Linked DNA regions of Homo sapiens. The protein of the gene in region 2 purifies or fractionates together with the protein of the main gene of each other region. This does not show direct contact. Each region holds a gene or a part of one and is shown on either strand. Other genes may lie near its edges.

What was found. The genes of interacting proteins can lie anywhere in the genome.
Region 1: the proteins of PRPS2 (region 2) and YY1AP1 purify together in Homo sapiens (affinity purification with mass spectrometry; one large-scale study listed by BioGRID and IntAct). This does not show direct contact.
Region 3: the proteins of PRPS2 (region 2) and ALG13 purify together in Homo sapiens (affinity purification with mass spectrometry; one large-scale study listed by BioGRID and IntAct). This does not show direct contact.
Region 4: the proteins of PRPS2 (region 2) and SMCHD1 purify together in Homo sapiens (affinity purification with mass spectrometry; one large-scale study listed by BioGRID and IntAct). This does not show direct contact.

The regions. Positions count from the first base shown.
Region 1 is NC_000001.11:155,664,775-155,668,274, forward strand, and holds part of YY1AP1 (YY1-associated protein 1), read right to left. Parts: intron 1-3,500. UniProt on the Homo sapiens protein: Associates with the INO80 chromatin remodeling complex, which is responsible for transcriptional regulation, DNA repair, and replication. Enhances transcription activation by YY1. Plays a role in cell cycle regulation.
Region 2 is NC_000023.11:12,815,412-12,818,911, reverse strand, and holds part of PRPS2 (ribose-phosphate pyrophosphokinase 2), read right to left. Parts: intron 1-3,500. UniProt on the Homo sapiens protein: Catalyzes the synthesis of phosphoribosylpyrophosphate (PRPP) that is essential for nucleotide synthesis.
Region 3 is NC_000023.11:111,729,670-111,733,169, forward strand, and holds part of ALG13 (UDP-N-acetylglucosamine transferase subunit ALG13), read left to right. Parts: intron 1-725; coding exon 726-758; intron 759-855; coding exon 856-911; intron 912-3,500. UniProt on the Homo sapiens protein: Catalytic subunit of the UDP-N-acetylglucosamine transferase complex that operates in the biosynthetic pathway of dolichol-linked oligosaccharides, the glycan precursors employed in protein asparagine (N)-glycosylation.
Region 4 is NC_000018.10:2,654,324-2,658,525, reverse strand, and holds the start of SMCHD1 (structural maintenance of chromosomes flexible hinge domain-containing protein 1), read right to left. Parts: upstream 2,801-4,202; 5' UTR 2,451-2,800; coding exon 2,265-2,450; intron 1-2,264. UniProt on the Homo sapiens protein: Non-canonical member of the structural maintenance of chromosomes (SMC) protein family that plays a key role in epigenetic silencing by regulating chromatin architecture.

The DNA of each region.
Region 1 (3,500 bases), on a different chromosome or scaffold from region 2:
TTTTTTTTTTTTTAATACGGAGTCTCGCTCTGTCACCCAGGCTGGAGTGTAGTGGCGAGATCTCGGCTCACTGCAAGCTCCACCTCCCAGGTTCACGCCATTCTCCTGCCTCAGCCTCCAGAGTACCTGGGACTACAGACGCCCGCCACCACACCCGGCTAATTTTTTTGTACTTTTAGTAGAGACGGGGTTTCACCACATTAGCCAGGATGGTCTCGATTTCCCGACCTCGTGATCCACCCGCCTCAGCCTCCCAAAGTGCTGGGATTACAGGCGTGAGCCACTGCGCCCGGCCCCGGAGATGGTTTAAATGTGAAAATTCCCTTCCCAAGCACTCTCCCTCAGGATGCTACTGGAATGGGGCCATGCAGGGTGGCTCATGCCTATAATCTCAGCACTTTGGGATGCTGAAGCAGGAGGATCACTTGAACCCAGGAGTCTGAGACCAGCCTGGGCAAAAAACTGAGACCCCCCCACCTCAATTTTTTAAAATTCAGAAAAAAATTTTTTTTAAAAAAAAGCTACTAGAATGTGTTCCACTAAAGTAAAGAAGTAATACTCACGCCTGTAATCCCAGCACTTTGGGAGACCGAAACGGGTGGATCAAGAGGTCAGGAGATCAAAACCATCCTGGCTAACATGGTGAAACCCTGTCTCTACTAAAAATACAAAAAATTAGCCAGGCGTAGTGGCATGTGCCTATAATCCCAGCTACTCGGGAGGCTGAGGCAGGAGAATTGCTTGAACCCGGGAGGCGGACGTTGCAGTGAGCCAAGATCATCGCGCCTTTGGACTCCAGCCTGGGCAACAAAGCGAGACTCGGTCTCAAAAAAAAGCAAAACAAAACAAAAAACAAGGCCAGGCGTGGTGTCTCACGCCTGTAATCCCCGCACTCTGGGAGGCTGAGGTGGGTGGATCCCCTGAGGTCAGGAGTTCAAGACCAAGACCAAGGTTGCAGGTTGCAGTGAGCCGAGATCCAGCCTGGGGGACAGAGCAAGACTCTGTGTCTCAAAAAAAAAAAAAAAAAAAAAAAAAGTAATGCAAAAGCAAAGATGTGGAATTCAGGAAATAAGAGGATCTAACACAGTATGAGGCAAAAGGAATTCCTGGGATGATGGTGAAGAAAAAGCCCAAGAAGACATCAGTGCAGCAACATGGAGAGCAACACGCTTAAAGTGGAATAATGTCAGAGGGCTCAGGGAGCAATTTCTTCAAGATGAAAGTGACAGAATATCTAGAATACCTGAACACACTGAAAGAAGATGATCTGGGAAACAAAATGTTCAGCAGGAAAGGCAAGGTAACACAGTAACATAGCTGAGCTGTGAAGAGCATTTATACAGTCCTTAAAATCTATTTTTTTTTTTTGAGACGGAGTCTTGCTCTGGCAAGACTGGAGTGCAGTGGCGCGATCTCGGCTCACTGCAAGCTCCACCTCCCGGGTTCACACCATTCTCCTGCCTCAGCCTCCCGAGTAGCTGGGACTACAGGCGCCCGCCACCACGCCCAGCCAGTTTTTTGTATTTTTAGTAGAGCTGGGGTTTCACCATGTTAGCCAGGATGGTCTCGATTTCCTGACCTCGTTATCCACCTGCCTTGGCCTCCCAAAGTGCTGGGATTACAGGCGTGAGCCACCGCGCCCAGCCAACAGTCCTTAAAATCTTACAATGTAAACCCTGAATACAATCTAACCAAAATTCTACCATAACTACTAGTGAGGAGTTTGGAGAGCAGAAAATGTGCATGTTTGTGGTGGGAGTAAGGGAGTGAGGAGAGAGGTAAATCTTCGGCTTCCGTGGTTTATGGTTAATAAGTAAGGCCTAAATCCAATACACCAGGCAGTACCAATTAGAGGCTGAGACAGGAGAATTGCCTAAGGCCAAAAATTGAAGACCAGCCTGGGCAATATAGGGACACCCCATCCCTAAAAAAAAAAAGTTTTTTGCCAGGCACAGAGGCTCACGCCTATAATTCCAGCACTTTGGGAGGCCGAGGTGGGCAGATCACCTGAGATCAGGAGTTCAAGATCAGACTGACCAACATGGTGAAATTATGTTTCTACTAAAAATATAAAAATTAGCCAGGTGTGGTGGCGCATGCCTGTAGTCCCAGCTACTTAGGAGGCTAAGGCATGAAAATTGCTTGAACCCGGTAGGTGGAGGTTGCAGTGAGCTAAAATTGTGCCACTGCACTCCAGCCTGGGTGACAGAGACAGATTCTGTCTCAAAAAAATAAAATAAAATAAATAAATAAATAAATTTAATGGCCAAGCACAGTGGCTAATGCATATAATCCCAGCTCCTTGGGAGGCTGACGTTGGAAGAATGCTTGAGCCTAGGAGTTCAAGGCTGCAGTGAGCTATGACTATACCACTGTACTCCAGCCTAGGCAGGAGAGTAAGACCTTGTCTCAAGAAAAATACAAAAACACAATGAAACCAAAGGCTGGGCATCATGGCTCACGCCTGTAATCCCAACACTCTGGGAGGCCGAGCTGAGGCAAGAGGACTGCTTGAGGTCAGGACTTCAAGACCAGCCTGGGAAACAAAATGACACCCTGTCTTCACACAAAATAAAATAATCGGCTAGCCTTGGTGGCATGCACCTGTAGTCCAAGCTACTTGGAAGGCTGAAGTGGAAGGATCACCCAGGAATTTGAGGTTGCAGTGACCTATGATTGTGCCCATGCACTCCAGCCAGGATGACAGAGTGAGAACCTGTCTCTAAAAAAAAAAAAAAACATAAATAAATATCTAAATAAAAAAGAAGGCTGGGGGCAATGGCTCACATTTGTAATCCCAGCACTTAGGGAGGCCGAGGCAGATGGATCACCTGAGGTCAGGAGTTCGAGACCAGCCTGGCCAACATGGTGAAACCCCGACTCTACTAAATACAAAAATCAGCTGGGCATGGTGGCAGGGGCCTGTAATCCCAGCTACAAGGGAGGCTGAGGCAGGAGAATCACTTGAACCCAGGAGGCAGAGGTTGCAGTCAGCCAAGATCGCACCATTGCACTCCAGCCTGGGGGTCAAGAGCGAGACTCCATCTCAATCAATCAATCAATAAGTAAAAAGAGTTGAGAAAAAGTATATAGGCTGGGCCTGGGCGACAAGAGCGAAACTCCATCTCAATACATACATACATACATACATACATACATACAGACACAGACACACACAAACACACACACACACACACACACACATACATGCATACATACAAACACAAAATTGAGAAAAAGTATATAGGCTGGGCACGGTGGCTTATGCCTGCAATCCTAGCCTCTGGGAAGCCAAAACTGGTGGATCACTTGAGGTCAGAAGTTCAAGACCAGCCTGGCCAACATGGTGAAACCCGTATCTACTAAAAATACAAAAAATTAGCTGAGCGTGGTGGGCACGCCTGTAATCTCAGCTATTTGGGAGGCTGAGGCAGGAGAATCACTTGAACCCGGGAGGCGGAAGCTGCAGTGAGCCAAGATCATGCCACTATACTCCTGCA
Region 2 (3,500 bases):
CAGCCTGGACAACATAGCAAGATCCCATCTCTTTAAAAAAAAAAATCACTAGCTCAGGAGGAGCTGAGCTGCCAACAGGAAGAGAAAGTGGGCAGGCCTCGCTTGCTGGTGAGCCTGGGGCATTTCAGATTTTCCTGTGAAGAGTGGATTTAAATGGTGAAACTTATTTCAAGACAATGCCACAGGTATAATGTAACATTAAGATTTTCCTTTTCCAGTTTTTAAAATAACAGTCATTATGCAATTTAGCTGAAAAAATGCTTTGGGGACCAATACACACATGGCCCAACTTAAGACGCAGTACATGGAGGATATAACCTCCACACACTAGTTTTAAAGTCCTAGTCCTACTCATTGTGTCATCCTCAGATGACGACCAGGAATGGAGCTCCTCGCGTGCTCTGATGAAGGACAGAGGGGACACTCTCTGGGGCTGAGAAGGCAGTGGGAAGGGCAGTTAGGTGCTCCAGGCTCCCCTCCCTATTTCTGAGGATTTTCACAACACAACCAGTGTTTCTTTTCTTTTCTTTTTTTTTTTTTTTTTTGAGACAGTTTCACTCTTGTTGACCAGGCTGGAGTGCAATGGCACAATCTCGGCTCACTGCAACCTCTGCCTCCTGGGTTCAAGTGATTCTCCTGCCTCGGCCTCCTGAGTAGCTGGGGTGATAGGCATGCACCACCACTCCTGGCTAATTTTGTATTTTTAGTAGAGACAGGGTTTCTCCATGTTGGCCAGGCTGGTCTCGAACTCCTGACCTCAGGTGATCCGCCCACCTCAGCTTCCCAAAGTGCTGGGATTACGGACATGAGCCACTGTGCCCAGCCAGTGTTTCTTTTCAATTGTGGTAAAATATACATAACACAGAATTTATCCTTGGAGCCATTTTAAAGTGTATTAATTCAATGGCATCAAGTACATTCACAACATTGCACAACTATTATCTCTGTCTAGTTCCAGAACATTTCATGATATCAAAAGGAAACCCCACACCCCTTAAGCAGGCACTCCCTATTCTCCCCTCCCCCCAGGCCCTGCCAAGCATGAATCTATTTTCTGTCTCTATTCTGAACTTTTTGTATAAATGGAATCATAAAATACGTGCATTTTTGTGTCTGGCCTCTTTCAATTAGCATAAACTGTTCATAGTCCATCCACACGGCTGCATAGATGAGTACTTCATCTCTCTTTAAGTCTGAATAACATTCCATTGGGTGGATACAGCGCATTGCGTTCATCCATTCATCTGTTCATGGCCACTCAGGTTGGTTCCACCTTTTGGCTATACTGAATACTGCCGCTATGAACACTGGTGTATAAGTATCTGTTTGAGTCCCTGTCTTCAAGTCTTTGGGGAATATACCTCAGAGTGGAATTGCTGGGTCATATGGTAACTCTGTATAACCTATTCGGCTAATATTTCCTTTTTTTTTTTTTTTTTTTTTATGAGGAACATCTTTTATTTCTTGTAAAGAGGGGAAAATAAGATTTTTTAATATTTCTCACTCATAAGATTTTTAAACTCTTAAAAATGCAATATCCTCTTTTCAAAGCACATGCCATCTTAAAAAAATCTTAGCAATGTACATTTGCACTCAAAGAAAAACATGGCAGCACCACTGTCTTCTGACAAAATTCTGCATAAAAAAACCCTATGCAACTTTTTGCAAATATGTTCCTTCTTTATTATTCAGGGACACCAAACCACAAACATTCAGTGCAATATTTATTGTTTTTTATTTCCGTAGGAAACACAGGACCAATGATGTCTTCTGACAACTGTTTCCTGATGATTTGTTGGGTTTATTGGATCTGAGGATCCTCGGATCCAATAAACCCAACAAATGAATTCCCAAACAATCTTAACAAAACTATAGAAGACCAAGAAAGCTTAAAAGAGACAAAGAATAAAGACAAGTCACCTAGTAAGGATGGCCAAGTCCTCAACTTCCCCAATGGAAGCCAGAAGTTATGGAGTCATATCTTCAATGTGATATGAGAAAATAACTCTCAGGCTAGGAGTCTATACTCAGCAAAACTGCCTTTCCAGAAGGAGAGCAAAATAAAGATAGTTTCAGCCAAACTATACAACCTGAGAATTTATTTCTAACATATAACCACTTAAAGAATGCAACTTAAGCAAAAGGAAAATCACCACAGATACATTGAGATGTGGTGAGGGGCAGGGGCAGAGAAAGGTAAGCAAAGATATTGATCAATATGTGGACAAATCTAAACAAATGTTGATTGTACAAAACCAAAATAATAATAATGTCTACTTTGTGGAGAAGGAAAAACTAAAGCATATAGTAGCTAAGCATGGTGGCTCACACCTATAATCCCAGCATTTTGGGAGGCCGAGGCAGGCAGATCACTTGAGCCCAGGAATTGGAGACCAGCCTGGGCAACATAGTAAAACCCCATCTCTACAAAAAATACAAAAATTAGCCAGGCATGGTGGCATGCGCCTTTAGTTCCAGCTACTTGGGAGGCTAAGGTGGCAGGATTACTTGAGCCTGGGAGATCGGGGGCTGCAGTGAGCTGTGATCGCGCCACTACACTCCAGCCTGGGCAACAGAGCAAGACTCTGTCTCAAAAACAAAAAAACCACATAGTAAGGTGGTGGTCATAAATCCAACTATGTCAATTATCATAAAAGAAAAGGGACCAAACTTTCCAGTTAAACACAGAGACTGTGAGATAAGAGAATAAGACATCAACGTCCTTGAAGCAAAGGGAATCATTACTATATTGAGGTCCATGTTTCTCCTACCCTTAGAACACTCATCCTACCCTTAAAACACTCATTCTTCAGGATGCAACCAAAACCACAGTAGCCCTAGCAGATACCCTTTGTTTGTAAACTTGTCTAGCTGTCAACAGTTTCCTTACTTAAAGATTTAATTAAAAAAATTAATTTAAAGGCCAACAAAAATTTTGCTCCATCATCACCTTAAAACACCTACAGTTCAGCCAGGCACGGTGGCTCACAGCTGTAATCCCAGCACTTTGGGAGGCCGAGGTGGGTGGATCACCTGAGGTTAGGAGTTCAAGATGAGCCTGGCCAACATGGTGAAACTCCATCTCTACAAAAATACAAAAAGTAGCCGGGCATGATGGTGGCTGCCTGTAACCCCAGCTACTTGGGAGGCTGAGGCGGGAGAATCGCTTGATCCCGGGAGGTGGAGGTTGCAGTGAGCCAAGATCACGCCATTGCACTCCAGCCTGGGCGACTGAGCGAGACTCCATCTCAAAAAACAAACAAACAAAAAAACACGTACAGTTCTATTATCTACATGCCAATGTCATAAAAGCCACTCAAACTCCAGGTAAGGAAAGCTACTTTCTGGGAACATGAGACAGGTTTTCCCAAGACACATGAACACCTCGCACAAAATGTCCACATACATTACCGTCTGCTTATTTGGTAACGACTAGGCAGATTTGGGCATGACAGGATACCAATCCACAGCCCAGCACTGGGAAGCACTGCCCTTTGTGG
Region 3 (3,500 bases), about 99 Mb from region 2:
GGGTTTATATTTGGTGGAAAACTGTCCGATTGAGTATTGACTTTCTCTGCATTTCAGTGGTACAGAAATCTTAAAAGTACTTCAGTCTACTGAGCCATCCTTTGAGGACACACTCATTTTACATGTATTACTTACATGAAACAGATTGAAAAACAGATGAGGCATACATGTTCCCTTAATGTCCACCTAAGGAAACAGTGGATTATACTCATACTTTATAGACACCATTGAGTATTTAGTATGTGTAAAGCACTATGCTAAGTTACTTTCACTTCCATTAACCATCCTCAAAAGGCCTATGAGCTAGGTACTGTTACTCCATTTTACAGTGAAGAATTGAGGCACAGAGATTAAATAACTTGCCTAAAGTCATGTAGTTAATCAGAATTCAAATCTAGGCAGTCCTCACTCCAGAGCCTATGTGCTTAATCACCACACTGTAGCCTCACTGGAAAAATTGGACACAACTGAGTTTTCACTTCTGCCTGACCTCTAAGAGCTAAGTGGATTTTCAGAGGAGAAATTTGTACAGCTTACAGCTAGTCTGTGGCTTCAATATCTGTTGACTAGTGTGAAAGCTCATATCACTTTTCAGGATGTATGCATTTTAGTTTTGAACATATAACCATAAAACTGGTGGAAAAAGCAAGTGCTGGCCATTTGGCTCTGCTGAGCTAAAAAGACCTATATAAACACATTTCTTCTGTCTTGTCTTTTTTCCCCAGGGCGATATCATGAAGAATATCTTTATCGTGCAGGTCAGTAAGATCTAGAAGTGATCTGGCATTCATCATTGTTTATAGAATTTCAAGCTATAAAATAATGCTCATTTTTTACTTTGGCTATATTCTCTAGAGCCAGACTATGAAACTTCAGGTGTTTATAGCACAACTGCATCTACAGCAAACTTGGTAGGTATTTAATAATAGCAAAGAGTTATAGCTCCTACTATGTACTAGGGCACTGTTAAGAGCTATACATATAAATGTATTTAAATCAGAACAACCCTGTGAGGCTTAGTATCATTCTCATTTTGAAGATGAAATTGAGACAGAAATTAACTCGTGTTCTGGAACTAATATATTTAGAGATATTCTAACATAGGCAGTAATGATCTTTTAGAAGGTTTTATTATGATTTTTTTATTAGAATGGATGATACATCTCACTCAATATAACAAAAGTTTGCTTCTCCTTTATGCTACATGTCTAGTAGAGGTCTGTAGAAGGGCTTGCTCAGGTACTTAGGCTGATGGAAATTCATCCACAATTGCCAAGGCAGGAAATAAAATTCGGTAAATGGTGCACTGGCTCTTAGAGTTTCCACTAGAGGTGATACATGTCACTTTCTTTTCCATTTCACTGGCCAGAGCAGGTCCCACTGAAGAGTCTTAACTTTTCTGTGCTGGAAGGCAAAAAGAAACATGTTAACAGCGCTAAGAACTATATCATTCAACTTGCCCTCCCTCTCATAGGCAGAATACTTGTTTCTGTCTCAAAGGAGGCATCCTAAAATGTCCCATTCAGTGTAATCAAACTCAAAGCCTAGGATTTCTGGGCTATGTGTAGTACTTGTTATATTGGGTCCAGATGTAGCTTCTTGTGATCTTGAGACTTAAAACCAAAAATACAGAGGTTTTATTTTTTCCCCCTCCCTCCCCAGTTTACAGTGCTGAAGCAGGGACTGAAATTTCTATTCATAAAGGGAGAAAAAAACAGTTATTGGCCTGTAGCAATTCTGAGACCTTCATGGGCAGACGTTGTAAGGGCCCCCAACATACTCATGGGACTCTTCCCTGGAGGAACTCTCGTTCATTTTCTGGGGCTCTTGGTTACTCCCAAGGCCCATCCTTCCTTGGCAGTGTTTGGAGTAGGCATTGGAGAATAATCCTTCCTTGGCAACCGAGCAGCTTTCTAAGCTTGCTACTTACAGAAGATTGGAGGCCCAAGGGTGGTTTTATCTCAGTTGAATGGTTTTAGTTCTGGCTCGTGATTTCTTTGGCTGTAAGATTAATTTATTCTGCTTCTGTTTGATTTCTTTTGGTTTCATGTACCAATAGCCATACTACAGTTCTTTTCTATAGATATACTACTAAGATTTGCTATAATTCTTTGTGGTTTTATCCTTATATTTCTGTCTATTTGATTGCAAGTGGCTTGAGTTTATCAGGCACTGATGGAAGAGCCATGCATTTTGGACATTTTTCTACAAGCCATTTTGTTGAAGTGCAAGGATTTACTAGGTGTTACATCCTTAGTTGAACTCTAGCTTTGAGACATCTTAATACACTCGGGTTTTAACCAAAGAGTTCATTCTTGCTGCGAGGTCGAGTTTTCACTGTTTGTCGTTGTTCAAACCATTCATCAATATTACCTTTTATAGTTTAGGGTTGAAACAGTTGTTCCTTCAACCCTGTGAGTCCCTGTATGCAAGGAATCTATTCCCTTTCATTCCTGCCTGCAAACTACTAATTCTCTCCTACATACACCTGTCTTAAAATAACTTGCTTTAGACAATGCCAACAGTTATCAAAGCACAATACTAACATCATGTCTTCTAAATTGCTTACCCTAAGAGCTACATGTTCATAATCTCCTTCTCAATTAGGATTTTGTTATAGCCGTACCCTACTTCTAGTTACCAATTTCTGTTTTAGTCAAGCTAGGTTATGCTGCAGTTAACAACCCCCCAAAATCTCAGTGGCTTAACTCAGGAAAAGTTGTTCTTGCTAATGTTATATAGTTCAATGCGAGTTGGCAGCAGGCTGCCAGACTATGACTGTTCTTCATAGTCACCCAGGGACCCAGGCTGATGGACACATGCCATCATGATCATCACAGCAGGGCAAAAGATACAGAAATTGAACACTGACATTTCTGGTCATATTTTATTGACCAAGTAACATGGTCATTCTTGACTTTGGATGGAGCTGGGAAGGGCAATCCTACCATCTATTCAGGAAATCTGGAATATTTATGAAGAACTTGAATAACTACCTTATATTCTCTAATTATGACTAAACTGTGGCAGCTTCATGTACTAAATTTTTGTTTTTACTGTTTAGACAATATACCTTAGGAAGGAGAAGAAAACTCTGATACGTAATTCTCTTTCTGTTCTTTCTCCTTCCCTTACTTTGCTCCTTCCAGAGAAAGTTTTTTCCCCCATTTCCTGCCACCATTACTATTCTCATATCATGTGCTTTTGATATCACCTCTTGAAGTAGCCAAGTAAGAATCTTACCACAAGGGATGACAAGAATACTTTTTTTCTGTTCCTTCAATTTCACTTGTCACATGTTCCTTTTTGTTCTGAATTTAAACAACCTCAATAGCTTTCAATCTCTTCATATGTTCCAAGCCCTCTGCCCCCATCACCAAATCCATAGCAAATTTCTATTGTTGCTAAAATAAAGGATAAATGTCTTCAGAATTATCAGCATACATTAAAAAAAAACTCTTTGTCTTTAATTTTTAATTTCAATAGGTTTTTTGGAGAAC
Region 4 (4,202 bases), on a different chromosome or scaffold from region 2:
CAGAATTAGTTAAAAGAAATATTTTCCTTGGTTTTCCAGTTGAAATATTGAAGGAAGGAATAAATACATCTGTTCCCTACAGCAAAGAATGCCATTTGAGTAGTATAACAGAATGAACAGAGGTTCTGGGTTTGAATACTAACTTGAGCTTTACTATCTGAGTAATGAGTCACCATTTCCACGACTGTGTTTATACTTCTGTAATAAAAGGCCAATAATACTTCCTCTATTTATCTAAGAGTTACTGAGACATCTCACGAGAGGGAAATAGTGCATTTCTAGAGGAAGGGTAAAGTAGCAAAACATTTTCAAAAAGCAATTTTAAAATACGAAACAAGAGCTTTAAAGATGTATCTCATCTTTGATCCAGTTCTAAGATTTCAAACTAAGCAAACAATAATAAAAGACATAAACGGCTATGTATTCAAAGATGTTTTTCCACTGGGTGCAGTGGCTCACGCCAGTAATCCCAGCACTTTGGGAGGCGGGTGGATCTCTTGAGCCCAGGAGCTCGAGACTAGCCTGGGCAACACAGCCAAACCCCCGTATGTACGAAAAATACGAAAAAAAAAAAACATAGCTGGGCATGGTGGCGCTCACCTGTAGTCCTGGCTACTTGGGAGGCTGAGGTGGGAGGATCACCTGAGCCCGGGAATATTTGGGCCTGGGAAAATGTTTATTACAGCATTACTTAAAATCAAAAAAATTAAAAGTAATGTAAATGTCAACAGAAAGGAGAGATTCGGTTATGTAAATAGTGGTAGCAAATGGACCATTTCAAATTTTGATTTGAAGACCTACGTTTAAAGAAACTTCTGACACTATTAAGTGAAAAAATTAATAGAATATAAAACACATATTTTAGTAATTTAAAAAATGGAGTGGGAAGGAGGAGGAAGGCTGAAAAGACATAACCTCAGGTGCTAAGAGTAGTCATATAGTAGTTTTACAGCGAGTAAAAGATTTACTTGTTTCCCCCCTCTGGTTCCATATTTTCTTTAATGTACTGATATTTTTACTATAAACACAATAAACGTAAAAAGTTTCCCTTTTGTAGAATGGTTCTGAATAGAAAGCATTCAACAAAAAAGATGAGCATTCATTCACTTTTCAAACACAACGGGAATCTACTACGTTCAGGCACAGAATTAACTTGAGGGGATAGGTTTTTGTCTTCATTCATTTATCCATTCTAATCTGGGCATTTACAATGTCGCAGGCACAGTTCTAGACGCTGGGACTACAGCTGTGAACAAAAGAAAGTCCTTACTTCTCCAATCGTTTTCATTCTACGGATCACGATTTCAATTATTTCAGCAACCATACAGTTATATGGTCTAGAACATTTCTAAACCTATCAGCCTCACGACAAAACACGGCTTCAAAGTTCTTTTTTTCCCTTGGACGCTAAGTGTTCTTAACAGCTTAAAAAGGGACCTCATATGGTTAATTCAGAGCATGACAATATTCCTTCTTCAAAGCTCAGGCAATGCCACCACCTCATATCTATAAAGTACATCACAGTTTAAAGCGGATTTCCCTCCACGTTCATTTTCAAAGCGAACCAATACACGGGGTAGGTACGTTTTCTGGTGCTCCACAGCCACCCATACCAACCTTTGACTTGGTTTGGAAATTCCCAAGGGTTAGGGCTCAGACAGGCAGAAGGCCAGCTCTACCTGCAGAGCTGACCTGGACAAGTGTCTCCGTGCGGAAGGATCCCCCCCGCCGCCCCGCCCCAGAAGGACCTGCAACCTCGACAGGGCAACCCGGGGACACCCCGCATCATCTAATGAACTTGGGGGAGATGACTCCGGGCATTTCACAACTTCCCACCGTCGCAACACTCACAACAGAGCCCCTGGGCGTTAACTCCCTTCTCTCGTTTTAAAAAAGTTACAAAGTAAAAACAGACACCACCAACGGCTTTCCCTAGACTGCAGGGCCGCAACCGGGCTAAGCTCGCCCAGGGCCAACAAACGCTGAGCTCTCCACCCGGGCCGGCAAGGCCTCCCGTAAAAGGAGCGGAGGCAGAGGGAGGGCCACGGGGGAGCCGGCCCTGCACTTCGAGGCCCGGGCCAGGGCCCGCCCGAGGCGTCCGGCCACCAGGTCACGGACATGGCGGGCACACGGGAGAGGGAAGCCAAGGCCGCAGGACCGGGACCGGGTGACAGGTTTATTGCCCTCAGTGAGCAAGTTGAGTTTCTCATCACCCTCCCGCCCCCAAGTCTACACGCGCATCCCTTCCTCGCCCCTTCGCGTACCTGACACACACACGCGCGAAATCCCGCGTAGTCCGAGCGCTCCCCGACCTGCAGAGGCCGGTCCCCGAGCTCGGACTCCTTTTCGCGCCGATCAAACAAGTACACCGTCCTGTGGCCGACGCCTCCGCCATCCTCCTCAGTCCCCACAGAGGCCCCACCAGGCCCGCCGCCGTCCGCCGCTGCCATATTGGGGAAAAGGAGAAAAGACAGCGACGCCTGCCGCCGCCGGGCTCAGGGCTGAGGTGCGCGCTCCGCGCGGCGCCTTCAGCTCCAGCTCCCGGGGCGGCTCGAGGCCTCGGCCCGGCGCGCTGCAGCTCCTCGTCAGCGGCGGCGGCCGAGCAGCGGCAGGCGCGAGGATCACCCGGGAACCGATTCAAACGCGCTCCTGCCCGTGCACCACGTCACTTCCGCGGCCCGCCACTCCTGAGGAGAAGGGGACGCGCGGCGCGCTCCTCACCGGGCCCGGGCCCAGCGCCTATCGCCGCCCACGCGAGCCTCACGGTGCGACCCGCGACCAGCGCCGCCGCCGGGACTGTGGCGCAGGAGGAAGAGCGGTGGCGGGTGGCGGGCGGCGGGCGACAGCGAGGGGCGGGGCGAATCCAGCAGGCCGCGCGGGCAGGGGCGGGGCTTCGCCGCGCGCGCGCCCGGGGCCCGCCCCCTCGGCCCTCGCGAAGTTGGAAGGAGGCTGAGTCTTTCGCGGCTGCCTGCGCCCTGCGGGTAGTCCTCAGAGGCCGAGGCGGGAGAGCAGGGCTCGGGGGCAGCGGGGGAATCTCCCGAAGAGCTGTGTTCTCTCTGTGGAAAGGGCCCCGCTGCCTTCCCGCCTCTCCAGGATCCCGACTGAGCTTGTAGGTGCCGCGCCGGCTGACTGAGCCCTCTCTGGCTGGGTCGCGTGGACGCGGCGGCGGGAAGCTTCAGGCCGGCGGTACTCGCCGGGCGCAGAGTCCACCAAAGCGAGCACGTGGGTCCCTCTGCCGAGAAAATAGGCGCTACGAGAGCCGGCGCCCCTTTTTCCTCCTCATTTCTTAGTAGTACTGGGTGGGCTCCAGCGTGGGCCCCCGAGGCAAAGCGGGTCCGTGAGAACGTCAGAAGGGCGCTCTGTGACGTCACAGCGTCCCCGCCCCCCGCACCCTCTGGGGGCCCTGGAGCGCCGACGGCATTCGGGGTACGGGGGTGACTCCAGCGCCCTAGTTTTAACGCTGCCTGCGCTTCGCGGTCTCCCACGTGCGTGTAAATTCTGAAAGAACCCACGCCACAGTTACTAGGGTTAAATTAGATGTTCGCAAAATTCTTAAGGCCTAATACGTTTTCAATCAAAGCCTTTAATCGTCGTTACCGGGCAGCGTTTCATTAACTATCCTCATCGTGGGCAGGTAGTGCCCTAACTCAACAAATAAAATGCCATTGTTAGAGGACTAGGTTTACTCTCCAGTTCTTAGAAATCGTGAATACTGTATACTTGAGAGTGGTATGTAAATTCAGAAACCCAAAGGTAGCAGATAGAGGGGTTTTTCAAATCTCAGAATATAAGCCTGGATAATAGTGCGTTTTCTGTTTTACTAGGTTTGCTAAAACCTTATATGGACAGACTTACAAAGTTAGTGTTATGTTAGAAACCTAGATTTGCTTGTGGATGTCAAGACGTTTCAAGATCGTGGGGAATGTGTGTATAAATTGACTACACATATACTAGAGGTAGACACCAACTAGAACGAAATTGTGAAGGCGTGTTTGGGGAACATACATTGTTTGGCTGGAAGTGAGGAGAACTGAGCGGTAGATGGTGGAAGATAAAATTGGAAAGACATAAACTGTGGCCAAATGCCGTTCATGTTCCTTAAGGTGGAGGTGGAGGAAAAGAAAACAAAAAAGTAACCCCCGATTCTAATGGAATTTCTTTGAAGTCTGATGTTTTATTTACCTTTCAAATTCATGCGAATG